2 separate regions of the Homo sapiens genome follow, and region 1 is linked to region 2. The links come from fine-mapping of genetic effects on plasma protein levels. Region 2 holds a variant in brackets. A gene starts in the other region. All regions are shown on their reverse strands. Region 1 holds the start of PON3 (paraoxonase 3). Region 2 holds the start of SLC27A5 (solute carrier family 27 member 5).

Evidence for each region. A credible set is the group of variants that fine-mapping cannot tell apart. PIP is the chance, under the fine-mapping model, that this variant and not a neighbour inherited with it causes the effect. The UK Biobank Pharma Proteomics Project read protein levels with antibody pairs (Olink). The fine-mapping took linkage between variants from a reference panel, not from the people measured, so its PIPs are less certain.
Region 1: PON3 starts here. The variant in region 2 is the best candidate, but not a certain one, in a credible set for the plasma level of the PON3 protein (UK Biobank, PIP 0.57).

The regions. Positions count from the first base shown.
Region 1 is chr7:95,391,370-95,399,697 of GRCh38, reverse strand. PON3 (paraoxonase 3) reads left to right here and starts at 3,323. Exons shown (of 9, transcript NM_000940.3): 1 at 3,323-3,421; 2 at 4,984-5,054. The coding sequence starts at 3,348. It overlaps LOC107986822 (a long non-coding RNA gene), which reads right to left and starts at 3,226. Exons shown (of 2, transcript XR_007060439.1): 1 at 2,670-3,226.
Region 2 is chr19:58,507,071-58,515,398 of GRCh38, reverse strand. SLC27A5 (solute carrier family 27 member 5) reads left to right here and starts at 3,407. Exons shown (of 10, transcript NM_012254.3): 1 at 3,407-4,131; 2 at 4,469-4,678; 3 at 5,394-5,552. The coding sequence starts at 3,444. ZBTB45 (zinc finger and BTB domain containing 45) reads left to right here. Exons shown (of 3, transcript NM_001316979.2): 3 at 1,089-1,869. The coding sequence ends at 1,345. LOC105372485 (a long non-coding RNA gene) reads right to left here. Exons shown (of 2, transcript XR_001754024.2): 2 at 4,276-5,615. RefSeq lists silencers at 976-1,025, 1,136-1,335, 1,356-1,405 and an enhancer at 3,190-3,704. The variant C/T (reference allele first, on the strand shown) is at 3,600.

The sequences.
Region 1 (8,328 bases), not on the chromosome of region 2:
TCAGAATGAAATTGAGAATTTTATTTAAATTCAGATATACCTAAATATTTAATACTTAAATAAGTATAAATTTAAAATAATAAATTTTCTAAATAATAGAAGTCATTTCTTAAAATAATACAAATATCTGGTCCTCTAGCATTTCTCTCTTCTGAGCAGCACTAGACTCATTAATGCCATGTAGTCGTACCCAGGTTTTAAACAGTGGTTTCTATGGCTTAGGACAATGTTTCCTAATGTTCTAAAATCCATATCCTCTTTTTAAAAAACAGCTTTATTGCAATATAATCATAATCTCTTTTGATTTGTTGCTCTTTTTCTCTATCGCCACCTCTTTTTCTTGGCAAGATTCACTGATAGAAACAATCTTTTTAAATTAAAAATGTAGCGATTGTAAACATGATCAAGATATAAAGTTTGAAAATTTTAAACATTACAGAGGGTCGTACAGTAAAAGCAAAGTCTCCTTCCATACTCACTGACCTCCCCACTCTCCACGACCCCAATCTTCTGCTCTCAAAGTAACTACTCTTCAGTTTATGTCTAGATTGTTTATATATATATATATATATACACACACACACACACACACACACACATATGTGGATAATATGTAATTCCCCTAATTTTATACCTTAGAATTATACCACATGTATATTCTGCATCCCCCTTAATGGCATTTTGATTATCAATGGTGTGGGACTCCCTAGATCTATATATAGTATTGTGTTACTTACTGTTTAAACGTATAGCATTGAATTTGGTCTACATTAGCTCTTTGAAAGCCCCACTATACATATAAGGAAAGAAGGGTCCAGAGGTGGTGATAAGTGATTTCAAAAGATTAAAGGGCCAACTACAAATGGAATTGGATCTTGAATTTAGGCCTTTTGAATTTATCTGTCCTGCTCTTTCAAAGTCAACAAACCCCTTTTACAATACTGATGTACCTGTGGCCTCTTGACCAAGTCAATTTGGCCTATTGCCAAGAGCAGATTTAGATGGTGACACTCGATACAGTGGCCTCCAAAGTTTGGAATTCTTTAATGCTAATTTACCATGCTGGGGATTTGAATTACTGATTATGGTATTCGAATAAAAACTAACCACTTCTAGGGTTTAAAGTTAATGTATACACACACACACACACACACACACACACATGCACACACACACACAGAGACTCCTCTGCCTAAAGTGAAGAATTTTTAAACAAATTATAGCTAACACAGAACTTCAATCAATTGCCCAAGAATACGCTTCTTTCTTTACCCCCTTCTTCATGCTATGCTGCAAACACAGTGATAAGGAACATGAGCTCTAGAGTCACCTGATCTGAGTCCAGATGGAGGCACTGACACTTAGTTATGTAACCTTAAGTGAATTATTACTTTACCTCTCTAAGCCTCAAAGCCTCACTTTCCTTCTTTTTAGTCCCATCAAACTTGCAGCAAGCAATTCACTTTACTTCTTTGTAGGTAAGGTTAATAAGAAGTAATGTGACAAGGCATGCAAACGCTGAGTGAAATAATAATATGACTATTATTATTTCATTATTCATTCCATTTATTTTTTATTCTTCTAATTTTTCTTTCTCCCAAGTCCATATTTTACATCCATCCATCTAATCATATTTATTGAGTCATTATTAAGCACAAAGTTCTATGGATGGCACGGGAAAACCCAGTGATCAATGCGATGGAGTCCTTCCCACAGGAGCCTACAATCTCAAGCAAAGTTCAGAATTAATTAGTGGTTAATCTTTACTGACTTCATAAAACGTATCAAGCACAGTGCAGAGCACTTGACACTCATTATCACATTTAATTTTAAGCTACCTATGAGGTGGACGTTCTTTTACAGAAGAGGAATCTGTAGCTCAATAAAGCTGAGTACTTTATCTAGGCTGGATCCAAACCCAGGCAGCCTGACTCCCAAACCCTGCATGCATGTCTACATCACACCCCAGGCCCCTCAGCTCTGTGAGCCCTCCTGACTTCGATTCCTCCTCTGCTTGCACTCTTTTAACATTAGTCATCTTAACAAGAACTCTAATCTATACAATTCAAGACGTTACACTGTCCTTTTAATACAACCCTTCTTCCATAGATTTTCTAGAGGCAGCATGGTAGAGGCAGCTCAGTTAAGGGCCCAGATTTTGGAGTCTGCTGCTTGACAGCTGCCTGACCTACAGCAAGCCACATAAGCAATCTGTGCTGCAGGTCTCACCTGTAAAATTGGGGTAAGGCTACCCACACTCCAGAGATTGTGTTGATAATTAAATGCGTTAACATAGGTGTCAGCACAGGCAAAGCACACAGTCAGTACTGCATAAGCGGTGGGCTTCATTATTCATCCTGTAATTACGTATTCATACTAGAATCATGTATCCCATAGGTCAGGGACCACCTTTTCTTTCCTTAATACCCCCAGGATTGGCAAATCTTGCTCTCTCAACAAATAGTTTACTCGGTGGAACCTAACAGAACTAATATTTCTTTCTGTCCGTAAATAAAAATAGATCATGCTTGAATGTGCTACTTTGCCCGAACTCCCCAAGTCTTCCCGCATCTTCAGTTCCTCCCCCTCCAACCTGGTGTTCATCAGGAGAGGGGAAAGAGCATTTCTTGCCTGGCAGGAACTCAAGACCTAGAAGAAAGAGGGCCTACCCTGCCAAGGAAATGACCTTCCCCTTCCTCGCCTCTGCTCCTCTTCCCGTTTCCTGTCTTTTCCTTCTTTTCTCCTGGTGTTTCCTTCTCCCGTTAACTATGGGGACAGACGCAGCTATTCACAAGTCCGTCTGGGCAGCACACTCCGAGGTAAGGCACGAAGGTCAGGAGACAGGTTCCCGTGCCCCAAATCCTGGAGAAGATGAGTTAAAGCTCTTCGCTTCGATTGCCTTCGCCCTTCCCGCGTCTCGGGAGCAATTCAGTGTCGCCTCACGTCTGGCCTTGCAGAAGTCCGGAGTTCCGGCTCTGAACTGGAGCTCCCCGCCATTCCCGGGCCCTCCGGTTTCTCCCTCAGGCCATCTGAGGAATTGAGGTAGGATTTCGCGGGTGTTAGGAGCAAACTCCCACCACAACTCGGTCCCGGGCTCCCTCTCCGTTGAGCCTTGACCTCTGCCCAAAAAACAAGGAATCGTGGGCGTGAAGGCGGCCTTGAACCCGGGCGGCGGGGCTCGGCGGGACTCGTCAGCGCCCTGCTGCGGCACCCGGGCCGCTCAGGTAAGTAGGAGGCGTGTGCGGGCGGGGCCGAGCGGGCCCCAATCCGTACGCGAGGCAGGAACCGCCCGCCGCGCCCCCGAGAGCTCTCGGCGCCGCGCAGTCGCCGCTGGGCACCCCGAGACCATGGGGAAGCTCGTGGCGCTGGTCCTGCTGGGGGTCGGCCTGTCCTTAGTCGGGGAGATGTTCCTGGCGTTTAGGTGAGTGGCATCTTGACAGGGCGTCTTCGACTCTCTTTCTCTCCTCTTCCAAGTGAGGTCAGGGGCTGCCTGGCGCCCCCTTCCTAGCGGGTAGGAAAGAGCAGCTTTGGAACCTCACTCCTCCATCTCACCCAGCAAACCGCCCCTTGAGACTCGCTTATGGGGAAAGTGAGCTACTTGCGTTTCCAAAGACTGCCGAGCCGAATTAGTCCCATTTATTTTTTGAAGGTTATGATCCCCCACTTTGCTTTCTGAAGGTCATGACCCCCTTTTACTTTCTGAACGTGATGACCCCTTTCCCAGCTCGCCCTCAACATTCTGCTTGGGAAAAAAGGACGTCCATTGGAAACGCCGGACTTGGGAGAGAGGATCAGGCTACCAGTTGGATGTTTACGGCTGACTGAGACATTGCCCAGGTCTGGCTAACCATGCAGAAGTACTGGGTTATGGAACCTATCCTAGATTTAAAGAGCTGGCCAGACAGCAGGGCAAACCAGCTGAAACCTGCAGGCGGTAACTGGCATTTTGTAGGCATTTGACCTTTTGAAGTGGAAGATACAATGGTGATAGCCAGCCTAGAAATGTCTCAGGAAAAGTCAATACTGGGCTAGAAAGAAGAACCTTTAAGTGATAATACACATTCATGAGTGGATCGAAAGCCTCTGCTTGCTTTCAGTTGTCTTTGAGTGTTTATGTATTTCTCTTAGTTGAAGCTGGTCTTCTTAGAGGATCACGTCTAGAATCTGTTGAGGTGCCTGGTGCCTATTAGTAATACTTCCAGTTTGAGAGTTTTATTGTTACATTTGCTCCCAGTGCAACCACATGGAGAATCATAAAATAATAGTAATAATAATAAAGTAGATCTAAGGGTATTTTTTTAAATAAATGACTGTAAGATAAGTATTGAGTCTTTCTGAATATACTTTAATAAAAATTTTAAATTATCCCTGATATTAGAAGAATGTGGAAACATTCCTTTTCACTCTGGAAACAAGAAAATTGTGTTGAAAAATAAATCGGCCAATTGTTTAAATTGTGGTTGGTTTAATGAATTTACATACTTGCGGAGTAAGTCAGCATAAAATTTAAAAATTAAAGCAAAAGTGATAGAGTTTGACTATTAGGAGACCCTGTTGAATTTTGGGAAAGCAGTTTGGAAGGAAAAGTTCAAAGGGCAAGACTGTAGGGGATTAAGTGCAGATTTATAACAGACGATACTTTAGAAAATTAGGGCTATTTCGTGCATTTAAATTAATAATATTGTTCAATTACTCATACTATTAAATAGTGTCTTTTATTTGGGCAGCAGAATTTTCCATGTTGAATCATATTATACAGTTTTTCAGCAATAACTGGGTAAGGTTAGCTGATATAGGTAAAATACCCACATAATGTCTACATTATGTAAATAAACATGAAAGGAAGTACCTACTTACTTGTTATGTCATTCATAAATTATGATAAAGATAGTTAACCAACACGAAGATGATTGAAGTCCACATTTAAACATACATTTTGAATGCTGTGCCTTGACTTCCAGGGTTGGGTTTTATCTTCTACAGAGAAAGGGTGAATGCCTCTCGAGAAGTGGAGCCAGTAGAACCTGAAAACTGCCACCTTATTGAGGAACTTGGTATGTATGTGACAGTACCAAGAGGAGCCAGCACAGCTTCTTGGTCGTCATCCACCTGACTGAGCCCTACCAGCTCATTTAATTACCTGTCACTACTTAAGCCCTCCCAGTGGGACATCTGCCCCGTCCACTCTGCCCCATGCAAGGTCTTCAGGGGTGTACTAAATGACATTCTTTGTGGGTTTTTCTCAGCACATTTCCTTACTGACATCTCTCCACATTACCTAAAGAATGTCATTGACCACTCCCTGGTTTTCCCCTCACTGAATGCTTCTCCTTTCCCATCTGTGGTATTTCACTCTCCTCCTTGTCCTCTGTTACCTTTCCTTTTTTTGCTTCTTTCTTCTTTCCTTCCTCCCTCCCTTTCCTTATTGTCATTCCTGGCTTCAAGTGTTATTTTTTTTCAAATAATATGACTCAGCCCCTCCCCTCAAGAACCTCACAGCAGGCTGGGCGCAGTGGCTCACACCTGTAATCCCAGCACTTGGGAGGCCGAGGGGGGCGGATCATGAGGTCAGGAGATCGAGACCATCCTGGCCAACATGGTGAAACCCCATCTCTACTAAAAATATAACAATTAGCCGGGCATGTTGGCGGCGTGTGCCTGTAATCCCAGCTACTCGGAAGGCTGAGGCAGGAGAATCACTTGAACCAGGGAGTCATCGGAGGTTGCAGTGAGCTGAGATCGCGCCACTGTACTCCAGCCTGGCGACAGAGCGAGACTTTGTCTTAAAAAAAATAATAAACGAAGGAACCTCACAGCCTACCTACCTTCTTTTAAAAAAATTCATAAAAAATCCATGGCCCAGTCCCTAACCTTTCAAACTGCAGCCCTTCTTTTTTAGTCAGTTAAAGGGCAGCTCCAGCTCAAACTCTCCCTAAGCTGAAATCTATTTTACATTTCTGTCGTTTTCTCCCTCATCCTCCCACCCACAACCAGCTCTGCTTCTAGACTTTTCCTATGTATGGTACCCCCATTCTCAAAAGATTCAGTTCAAAATCCAGGAACCATTGTTCCCCGCTTGTCCCTCATGCTTCTACGTGAGACATGGGCTAATCTCACCTACTAGTTAATGCCACACCTGCTTATTTGGGCTCCACAGCTCCAATTCTTCCTGACATTGCTAACAGAAAAATAAAATAAAATCAGGCTAGATTGTGTTCCCTGTTCTGGGAATATGTTCTTTCACCTTCTCACCTTTGCTTATGAAATTCCCTCCAAACTTACTGATTCCTCTGTCTCTGCTTACTAAAATCAGCTGCAAAATTCATCTCCTTCCTCTGAACTCTCACAGCACTCTGAAGCTCCGATTCACTTATGACACCTGCCACATGCCTTGTATTATAGCTAGCAGTGTTCTCTCTTTCACTATCAGATTGTAAACTCCCTAGGGCCAAGAACTGTGACTTATTTATTAGAATGTGATGAGATAGCTTATTTTGGGATATGATTTTCTATTTTATTGCTATATTTAAAAATACAGAAAAAGTACCCTTTTGATTTGAGTTTTCTGCCTTTTCTTGCCTCTCAATTTCTAAAAAATAAAGTAATCTGAACCTTGCACTCCCTAGTCTTAGAGGTGGTTTGTGCTAGCAGCTGGAAAGCAGAAGAAACCAAAGAAAACGCCTTTCCTGAATTGTTTTTAAAAACCTGAGCCCCTTCAAGGGATTCTGTTGGAGAAGGGATATGAATATGTGGATATCTTTGAATAATGGGGATCCTTACCCCACTGGCTGACAGCATTCTGGGAGAGGAGCAGGACCTCAGAAGGAATGGTTGCAAGGTATCTTTAGGGACGCTGGACCCTGTGTTCCAGCTAAGGTAAAGACCTTGTGTCAATGCATTACATGGAAGTAGCAGAATTGTCTAAATTAAAGGGACCAGTAACTTTGGCAATGAATAATTCGATGATACGTAGTGTAGAATGAATGCCAGATGGCCTTTCCAAAACATTCTGCTTAGGTTTAGAACCCACCACTTAAAATGATTTCATAACCCTAACAGACAAACCCAGTAATGACTCAGATTGGATTTTCCATCAACTTAGTGGAATAGGATATCAGAGTGATTTAATTTGATTTTAAAAATAAGGAAATGTGACATTTACTCATTTGTTTACTGTTTTGTGGTGTAGTAGTATTCATATTCACTATACAAATAACTGTCAAAATATATAAGCCTGCAAATAATCAAGAGGTATAATTAGACTAGATGATTGGTAGGGTCTAGTCTGACTCGAATTGTATCACTCAACTAGATTTGAGAAGGTAAAATTACAGTTAATATTGTGAGTCTTAGGTCAATGTTCTGATTTGCCAAATATTTTGAAGAAAATGGCTTAAATAGTTGGAAGCAGGCTGGGAGCAGAAGAAAGAAATGCCATGTTACTTCTCATGTCTATTGGCATATGTTTGGTGAACTAAACAAGTTAGAATGATGATGGGTCATGTGTCAGTAGGACAATACTGATATATATGTTTTGAAAAAGCTGCTTTATCAAAGGCCTGGTGACTATGAGCAGCCTGTTGAGTCCTTTACAAACATCTACATCATCCTCATAACCAATTTGTAAAGTGGATGCTGCTATCTATGCTTTGCAGATTAGGAAATTGACATACAGAAGAATTAAGTTGCTTGCCCAATGGTCCGGAACTAGGGGGTGATGGGCTTAGCTTATGAGCCAAGATCGTTTCCTTCTATGCCTTTTTACTCTCTGTTGTGTAACACTAACTTTCTGATCTACTGACAACACATTTTTTATTTTGGAAGCTTCAGGAAAGTATTGCAACAGTGGAAAACAGAAAATCTGAGATGCAAACAGCTGAAATATTACTAGATACAGGTTAATCAAAACAAGGCAGTCTAGATATTTAAATTAAGATAATGGATAAGATAATACTCACAAATCACAACTGGTTGAGGAGTAGAGGCTTTACAAAGCCCTGAAAAGCTGCTGAAGGATTTTAGGTAGGGTATAGTAGGCTGTAACAGAGCTGGAGAAAAATTCTTATTTGTGTTTTCAAGACCCAGACTTTTGAGGTTTATTTTATTGGTAGAAGAAACTCTTATTTTGTTTTCCTTCTCCAGCATTTTTTTCTGGGAAGAAAAGTTGAAAGGTGAAATATATCTTTCTCTGGAAATCATATCTCATAGATCTTTTTGTATTACGTTCATCTTTTTATCCAAGGCTTTTGAGGGTCAAGGATTGTTTTAACCAGGACGTTATCTGGCTGCCCTTGACATCTAATCAAAGCTGCACTTGAAATATGAATA
Region 2 (8,328 bases):
GTTATTCTGGGGTACCCTCTGGCAGGCACTGCCTTTCAGTCCACTGCCACTGAGATAGGGTTTTTTTTTTTTTAATTTTTTTTGAGACCGAGTCTCCCTCTGTTGCCCAGGCTGGAGTGCAGTGGTGTGATCTCGGCTCACTGCAACCTCTGCCTCCTGGGTTCAAGTGATTCTTGTGCCTCAGTCTCCCAAGTAGCTGGGATTACAGGCGTGCACCACCACACCCGGCTATTTTTTGTATTTTTAGTAGAGATGGGGTTTCACCACGTTGGTCTCGAACTCCTGGCCTCAAGCGATCTGCCTGCCTTGGCCTCCCAAAGTGCTGGGATTACAGGTGTGAGCCACCACGCCTGGCTGAGACAGGCATTTTGTTAACATCTGATGAATCTAGGGGTGGACTCAGACTGCCTCCCCTCCCCTAACCCAGAATGAGGAGCTCTCTCTATCACACCAAGGACATTATAGTGGCCAGCGGGCAGGGGTTCTGGGCAACTGGGGCTTCCTGCAGGAAGGTGGCAGATGTGCCCAGGTCCCTCCTTATGAAAGGGCACTGGCCTTGTCAGACTGAGTTTAGGGGACTCTATGGGCATAGGCGAGGGGGGCCAGGACCCAGTGTCTCCCTGTGCCGGGTGGGTAGGGGTTGAGGGGGAGGGTACCTGAGGGTAGAGGGAGATCCCAGTGGGCAGTCCAGATGGCCAACAGATGTTCCAGACAGGCTGGGTTCCTTGCAGACAGGGTGCTTGCTGGATTTAGGGGTGCCCTGTCACAGTGATATCCCAGGATAACAGAAAGGGGGTCCCTGCCAGGAAGGGATGGGAGAGGGGTACCTCACAGTGTATGAGGATCCCTGTTGGGCAGGAAAGTCCCAACGTGAAGGGAGGTCCTGGAGAGGAGGGGGTGTCCCTGCTGGGCAGGAAGATCCCATAGTGAGGGGAGGGTTCTCTGATAGGCAAGGGATCCCGGGGTGGTGGTTCGGGAGGGGAGGGGAGCCCCTGCTAGGTCCAGGAGCCCAGGTGGGGGTGGGGTGGGGTGGGGGCGGGGAGCTGTAGAGTCTGACTTGCGTTCGCGGCCCGCCCTGTCTTCCGCAGGGGAGAAGCCGCACCAGTGCGCCGTGTGCTGGCGATCCTTCTCTCTACGCGACTACCTGCTCAAACACATGGTCACGCACACCGGCGTGCGCGCCTTCCAGTGCGCCGTCTGCGCCAAGCGCTTCACGCAGAAGAGCTCGCTCAACGTGCACATGCGCACTCACCGGCCCGAGCGCGCGCCCTGCCCCGCCTGCGGCAAGGTCTTCTCGCACCGCGCGCTGCTGGAGCGCCACCTGGCGGCGCACCCTGCGCCCTGATGGCGCTGGGGCCTGGCCTCGCCCACGGTGGATCCGGGGCCTCCCGCACAGTCGGCCACGCCCGCTGCGGGACCCGTGGTTCCCGCCACTAGACCACGCTCCCTCCTGAGCGCAGGTCCTCTCTCTCCCTTCACCCTTTCTCCATACCAGGGCCTAAGTCCGCCTTACTCCTCTCCTCCATGTACTTGAACCCTCCAGGTGGTGCCGGGCTGGGGCTGGGGCTGGTTAGACCACTTCTGAGAACTGGACTATTTCCTGCGTAAACCGGGCGCTCAGGCGCTTGGACCCGGCCCAAGATTTGACTCCGGTTCTCACCCCGCCCTCTCCTGGGGTGGTGGTGGGGGCTGGGGGGCCGCTTGCCTGCCCCAGGGTCAGGCTGGGCAAGGTCCCTAGCTCTCTACCCAAGCTGTTACTCCCTCATGGGGCGCCTAAGGAGACTCAAGTGGACCCATCATATATGGGGGCTGGGCCTCGGGACTCTCGCTCTAATAAAGGACTGTAGGCCATGGGGCCTAAACCACGAAGCTGTGAGCACCTGGATCAGTGCGTGCCTTGCCCTCATAGACAAGATGTGAGTGTCAGGGTTCAGCGTCCCTGTTCTTGGGTGGCATCCATGCGGCCCACAGGCTGTCCTGGGCAGGAACAGGATGGTCCACTTTGCCATCTAGGACCTCTATTCTGTAGGGGCTAAGGTGGGCTGCATATATAACCAGCACTTGGTTCTCTTGGATCCCTCAGTCCTGTGGGGAGTAGGATAGGCAGGCCACATCTGAGGTGGGTCTCCGAGAGGGAGGCCACGTGAAAGCCCCATCATACTCCTGGTTGCTGCTGTCCACGACCTTTAAGGCCCCTCCCATAGATCTTCCAGTCAGGCTCTAAGGGTCTTTTGGACTTAAGACTTCCCCTCCCCGACCTTGATGGACATGGCTGAGCACCTTACTTGTGGGGAGCCCAGGGGGATCTTTGGGGCCAGGTTGCACTGAGGGTATATAAGCCCCCATATATCTGCCCTTGGTGCTGGGGGCAAAGTTCAGGGAGGGCTCCGATGGCCGTGTTGGGGGCAGGAAACAGTGAGGGGTGGGATCCTGGGGCTGACTGCTGGGCGGTTGGGGACACCACCCCTACTGGCCAGCCAGTGTCCCAGGCCCCTGCATCCAGCGGAGAGAGCAGCCACTCTTTGCCCCTCTCCTCTTCAGCACAATAGTGGCTCCTAGCCTAGGTGCCCTGCCATAAGGATTTGGAGCTGGTGGAGTGGGGTATGGCCCCAGGCCATACCCCAGCCTGACCTGCCAGGCTCCTAGGCCAATGGCAGCTCCTCTGGGTTCACCTTCTGAGACTGCTTCCTCAAGGTGAGAGGCCAGGGCTTTCATGATCCAACTGTGTGCATCATGGGCTGACTTCAGTCTCCTGAACCCCAGGACTCCATCGTCGTCAAAGCCAGAGGTGGAGCAGAGAGTCAGAGCAAGCACATGGGTGGGGGGCAGAGCTGGGTTTGAATCCAGGCGATGCCAGTGTTCCTGTATTTACTGAGCACTTGCTGTATGCCTGGCAGGAGGGTACGATTCCTCGGATCATGGGACAAGGGGCTTAGCCTGGCTGAGCCCCTCTCCTCAGGGTTTCAGTGGGTGTCACAGGAGGACCTCCCAATGAGGTCCACCTTGCTGTCCTGTTGCTTTTCTGTTTGGCCTGATTGGAGTGTTCCCAAGGGCAGGGATTTCTGTGCTCTGAGTGTCTGGTACCCAGCAGGGATGGGAGGGGAGGCAAGGGAGTTAGATGCCAGCCCTGGAGGGTGGATGGGGCAAGCAGGACAGCAGGAAGGAGGCTAGTGGTGCCCAAGGGGCAGAGACCTGGGAACCCAGAGGCCAGTGATGGAAAGGGTTAGCGCCAGGCAGAGAGGGGCTGGACCCACACACAAGACCAGGCAGAGCAAACAAACGTAGAGGAGAAGGGCTGGGGGCAAAGTCCTGGGGAGAGGACCAGCCACTGTCAGCAGTGCCAGGGCCACCACCCCTGGGGAGGAGCCATTGGGCTACTCTTGAGGGGCCAGAGGTGAGCCTGAACACTCCACAGCTGCTGCTCCTAGGGAGGAGCTGGTACCATGGGTGTCAGGCAACAGTTGGCCTTGCTGCTGCTGCTGCTGCTCCTGCTCTGGGGCCTGGGGCAGCCAGTGTGGCCAGTCGCTGTGGCCTTGACCCTGCGCTGGCTCCTGGGGGATCCCACATGTTGCGTGCTACTTGGGCTGGCCATGTTAGCA[C/T]GGCCCTGGCTCGGCCCCTGGGTGCCCCATGGGCTGAGCCTGGCAGCTGCGGCCCTGGCACTAACCCTCCTGCCAGCACGGCTGCCCCCAGGACTACGCTGGCTGCCGGCTGATGTGATCTTCTTGGCCAAGATCCTCCACCTGGGCCTGAAGATCAGGGGATGCTTGAGCCGGCAGCCGCCTGACACCTTTGTAGATGCCTTCGAGCGGCGAGCACGAGCGCAGCCTGGCAGGGCACTCTTGGTGTGGACGGGGCCTGGGGCCGGCTCAGTCACCTTTGGTGAGCTGGATGCCCGGGCCTGCCAGGCGGCATGGGCCCTGAAGGCTGAGCTGGGTGACCCTGCGAGCCTGTGTGCCGGGGAGCCTACTGCCCTCCTTGTGCTGGCTTCCCAGGCCGTTCCAGCCCTGTGTATGTGGCTGGGGCTGGCCAAGCTGGGCTGCCCAACAGCCTGGATCAACCCGCATGGCCGGGGGATGCCCCTGGCGCACTCTGTGCTGAGCTCTGGGGCCCGGGTGCTGGTGGTGGACCCAGGTGAGGGCCTTGGAGCCAGTGGAGAATGGAAGGGGGCAAGGGCAGGGACTATAGGACAGGGGTTCTGCTGGGACTGGCAGAGGCCCTTGGTCCCCACCTGCCTACTTTCACAGGCAATTATAATCAAGACTTATGAGCAGAAAGTAGTTCTCAGGTCATCAGAGTTTAATTTTCCCACAATTTGACCAAAAATACTAATGATGGGATTCTTTACCAAACAACATGGATGCTTTTCTCTACTAGCTGCTCCTCTGCCTGCATCTGTGGGTCTCAGATCCCGCCTCGCAACCTCAAAGGTGAGCCTTGCCTCTGTTTCTCCTCTGACCCATCTCTGCAGACCTCCGGGAGAGCCTGGAGGAGATCCTTCCCAAGCTGCAGGCTGAGAACATCCGCTGCTTCTACCTCAGCCATACCTCCCCTACACCAGGGGTGGGGGCTCTGGGGGCTGCCCTGGATGCAGCGCCCTCCCACCCAGTGCCTGCTGACCTGCGTGCTGGGATCACATGGAGAAGCCCTGCCCTCTTCATCTATACCTCGGGGACCACTGGTGAGGGTGCCCATTAGCCCTAGCACCAGCCTCTGAACTCTCAGGCTGACCTGACCCCACACTTGACTTGTGACTCAGTGTTGACCTCTGAAACCACTTTACCCTCTGATTTTGACATTTGTTTTTTGTTTGGCTGTTTTTTTTTTCGAGGCAGAGTCTCGCTCTGTCGCCTAGGCTGGACTGCAGTGGTGCAATCTCGGCTCACTGCAACCTCCACCTCCTGGGTTCAAGCAATTCTCTTGCCTCAGCCTCCTGAGTAGCTGGGATTACAGGCACACACCACTATGCCCAGCTAATTTTTGTATTTTTGGTAGAGACAGGGTTTCCCCAAGTTAGCCAGGCTGGTCTCTAACCCCTGACCTCAGGGGACCTGCCCAACTCAGCCTCTCAAAATGCTGGGATTACAGGCGTGAGCCACTGCTCCCAGACTTGATTTTGATATTTGGCCTGAACTCTGACCCCCAATGTAATTTGAGAGGTCAATGCCAGAATTCTTCCTGTGTCCAGTAAACAGCCACTGAAACCTTTGATCTTGACATATTACTTTCAGTCCAAATTCAGCCTGTGAACCCAACCACAAATCCCTATACTTGACTGTTCTCTGAGAGCCTCAAACCCCAATGTAGGCCTGGCTGTTGGAGATCTATCCCTCTGGTCAGGCCCCTCTCTGTGCTGTCATGTCACCACCCTGCCCTTGCCATGCCTTCATCCCAAGGCCTCCCGAAGCCAGCCATCCTCACGCATGAGCGGGTACTGCAGATGAGCAAGATGCTGTCCTTATCTGGGGCCACAGCTGATGATGTGGTTTACACGGTCCTGCCTCTGTACCACGTGATGGGACTTGTCGTTGGGATCCTCGGCTGCTTAGATCTCGGTAAGCCCACTTCTGAGGATCCCTCCAGTCTACAGGACCACGGGAGTAAGTGTCGGCGTGGGGCTGTCAAGGCAAAAAGACACCATAGGTTACCCAGCACCCTGTGTTCTCACTTTTGAGAAGGGACACCCACCAATGACTACCAGGGCCGCATGGACAGAAGCTTGGACACCCACACAGTCCCTGATGGCCATGCTTTGGTCAGGAGGTGACAAGACCTGATACGAGTGATGGTCACAGGCATCCAAGGAAGGTGTGGTGCTCAGGAGATGATGGGGATGCTGGCCCAGATTTGTGACATGGCCCCAAGGGCAGCTGGAGTAGGAGTGCTCTCAAGCACTCCACAGGGCTGTCTCTCTGGACTCTTGATTCAGAGTCTAGATGGGGACCTCTCCATAGCTTGTTCTTTTTGTTTTCTCTCTTTTTTTTTTATTTTAATTTTTATTTATTTATTTTTTTTCGAGACAGAGTCTTGCTTTGTCACCCAGGCTGGAGTGCAGAGGCATGATCTTGGCTCACTGCAACCTCTGCCTCCTGGGTTCAAGCAATTCTCCTGCCTCATCCTCCTGAGTAACTGGGATTACAGGCGCCCACCACCACGCCCGGCTAATTTTTGTAGTTTTAGTAGAGACGGGATTTCACCATCTTGGCCAGGCTGGTCTTGAACTCCTGACCTCGTGATCCACCTGCCTTGGCCTCCCAAAGTGCTGAGATTACAGGTGTGAGCCACCGCACCTGGCTATTTTCTCTCTCTCTCTCTTTTTTTTTTTGAGACAGAGTCTCGCTCTGTCGCCCAGGCTGGAGTGCGGTGGCATGATCTCGGCTCACTGCAAGCTCCGCCTTCCAGGTTCAAGCGATTTTCCTGCCTCAGCCTCCTGAGTAGCTGGGATTACAGGCACGCACCACCACGCCCAGCTAATTTTTGTATTTTTACTAGAGACTAGGTTTCACCATGTTGGTCAGGCTGGTCTCAAACTCCTGACCTTGTGATCTGCCCACATTTGCGGGCATTTGCCTCCCAAAGCGCTGGGATTACAGGTGTGACCCACCACGCCCGGCCTTTTTGTGTTTTCCAGCTATTATCATGGCCATGTGTGGTTGCTCATGCCTATAATCCCTGCACTTTGGGTGCCAAGGCAGGAGGATCACTTGAGTCCAGGAGTTCAACACCAGCGTGGGCAACATAGTAAGAGGCCATCTGTTAAAAAAAAATTTTAAAAAGCCACGCATGGTGGTATCGGGGGAACCTGCCCCTAATATTTCAATGTAGGTTCTTTTTTTTTTTTTTTTTGAGATGGAGTCTCGCTCTGTCGCCCAGGCTGGAGTGCAGTGGTGCGATCTCAGCTCACTGCAAGCTCTGCCTCCTGGGTTCATGCCATTCTCCTGCCTCAGCCTCCCCAGTAGCTGGGACTACAGGCGCCTGCCACCGCGCCCGGCTAATTTTTTGTATTTTTAGTAGAGATGGGGTTTCACATTTAGCCAGGATGGTCTCAATCTCCTGACCTCATGATCCTCCCACCTCGGCCTCCCAAAGTGCTGGGATTACAGGTGTGAGCCACTGTGCCCGGCCTCGATGTAGGTTCTTTCTATTTTCCGTAAGTGCTGGCCAGCTGAGAAATAAAGAGAAAGAGTACAAAGAGAGGAATTTGACAGCTGGGCCTCCGGGGGTGACATCACATATCGGTAGGACCATGATGCCCACCTGAGCTCAAAGCCAGCAAGTTTTATTAAGGATTTCAGAAGGGAAGGGGGTGTAAGAACCGAGAATAGGTACAAAGATCACATGCTTCAAAGGGCAAAAAACGGAACTACTGATCAGGGTCCAACAAAGATCACAAGGCAAAGGGCAAAAGCAGAACTGATAAGGGTCTATGTTCAGTGGTGCACATATTGTCTTGATAAACATCTTAAACAACAGAAAACAGGGTTCAAGAGCAGAGAACTGGTCTGACCTCAAATTTACCAGGGCGGGGTTTTTCCCCACCCTAGTAAGCCTGAGGGTACTGCAGGAGACCAGGGTGCATCTCAGTCCTTATCTCAACTGCATAGGACAGACATTCCCAGAGCGGCCATTTATAGACCTCCCCCCAGGAATGAATTCCTTTCCCAGGGTCTTAATGTTAATATTCCTTGCTAGGAAAATAATTTAGCAATATCTCTCCTACTTGCACGTCCACTTATAGGCTCTCTGCAAGAAGAAAAATATGGCTCTTTTTGCCCAGCCCCGCAGGCAGTCAGACCTTAGGGTTGTCTTCCCTTGTTCCCTAAAATCACTCTCATTCTGTTCTTTTTCAATGTGCGCTGATTTCACATTGTTCAAACACACATTTTACAATCAATTTGTACAGTTAACACAATTATCACAGGGTCCTGAGGTGACGTACATCCTCAGCTTATGAAGATAACAGGATTAAGAGATGAAAGTAAGACAGGCGTAAGAAATTATAAGAGTATTATTTGGGAAGTGATAAATGTCCATGTTATCTTCACAATTTATGTTCCTCTGCCGTGGCTCCAGCCGGTCCGTCTGTTAGGGGTCCCTGACTTCCCGCAACAGTGGTGAGCACTTGTGAGCGATTCTTCTGCCTCAGCATCCCGAGTAGCTGTTATTACAGGTGCCCACCACTATGCCCGGCTAATTTTTGAATTTTTAGTATAGGTGGGGTCTCACCATGTTGGCCAGGCTGGTCTCCAACACCTGACCTCATGATCCACCCACCTCAGCCTCCCAAAGTGCTGGGATTACAGGCATGAGCCACCGCGCCCGGCCAAATTT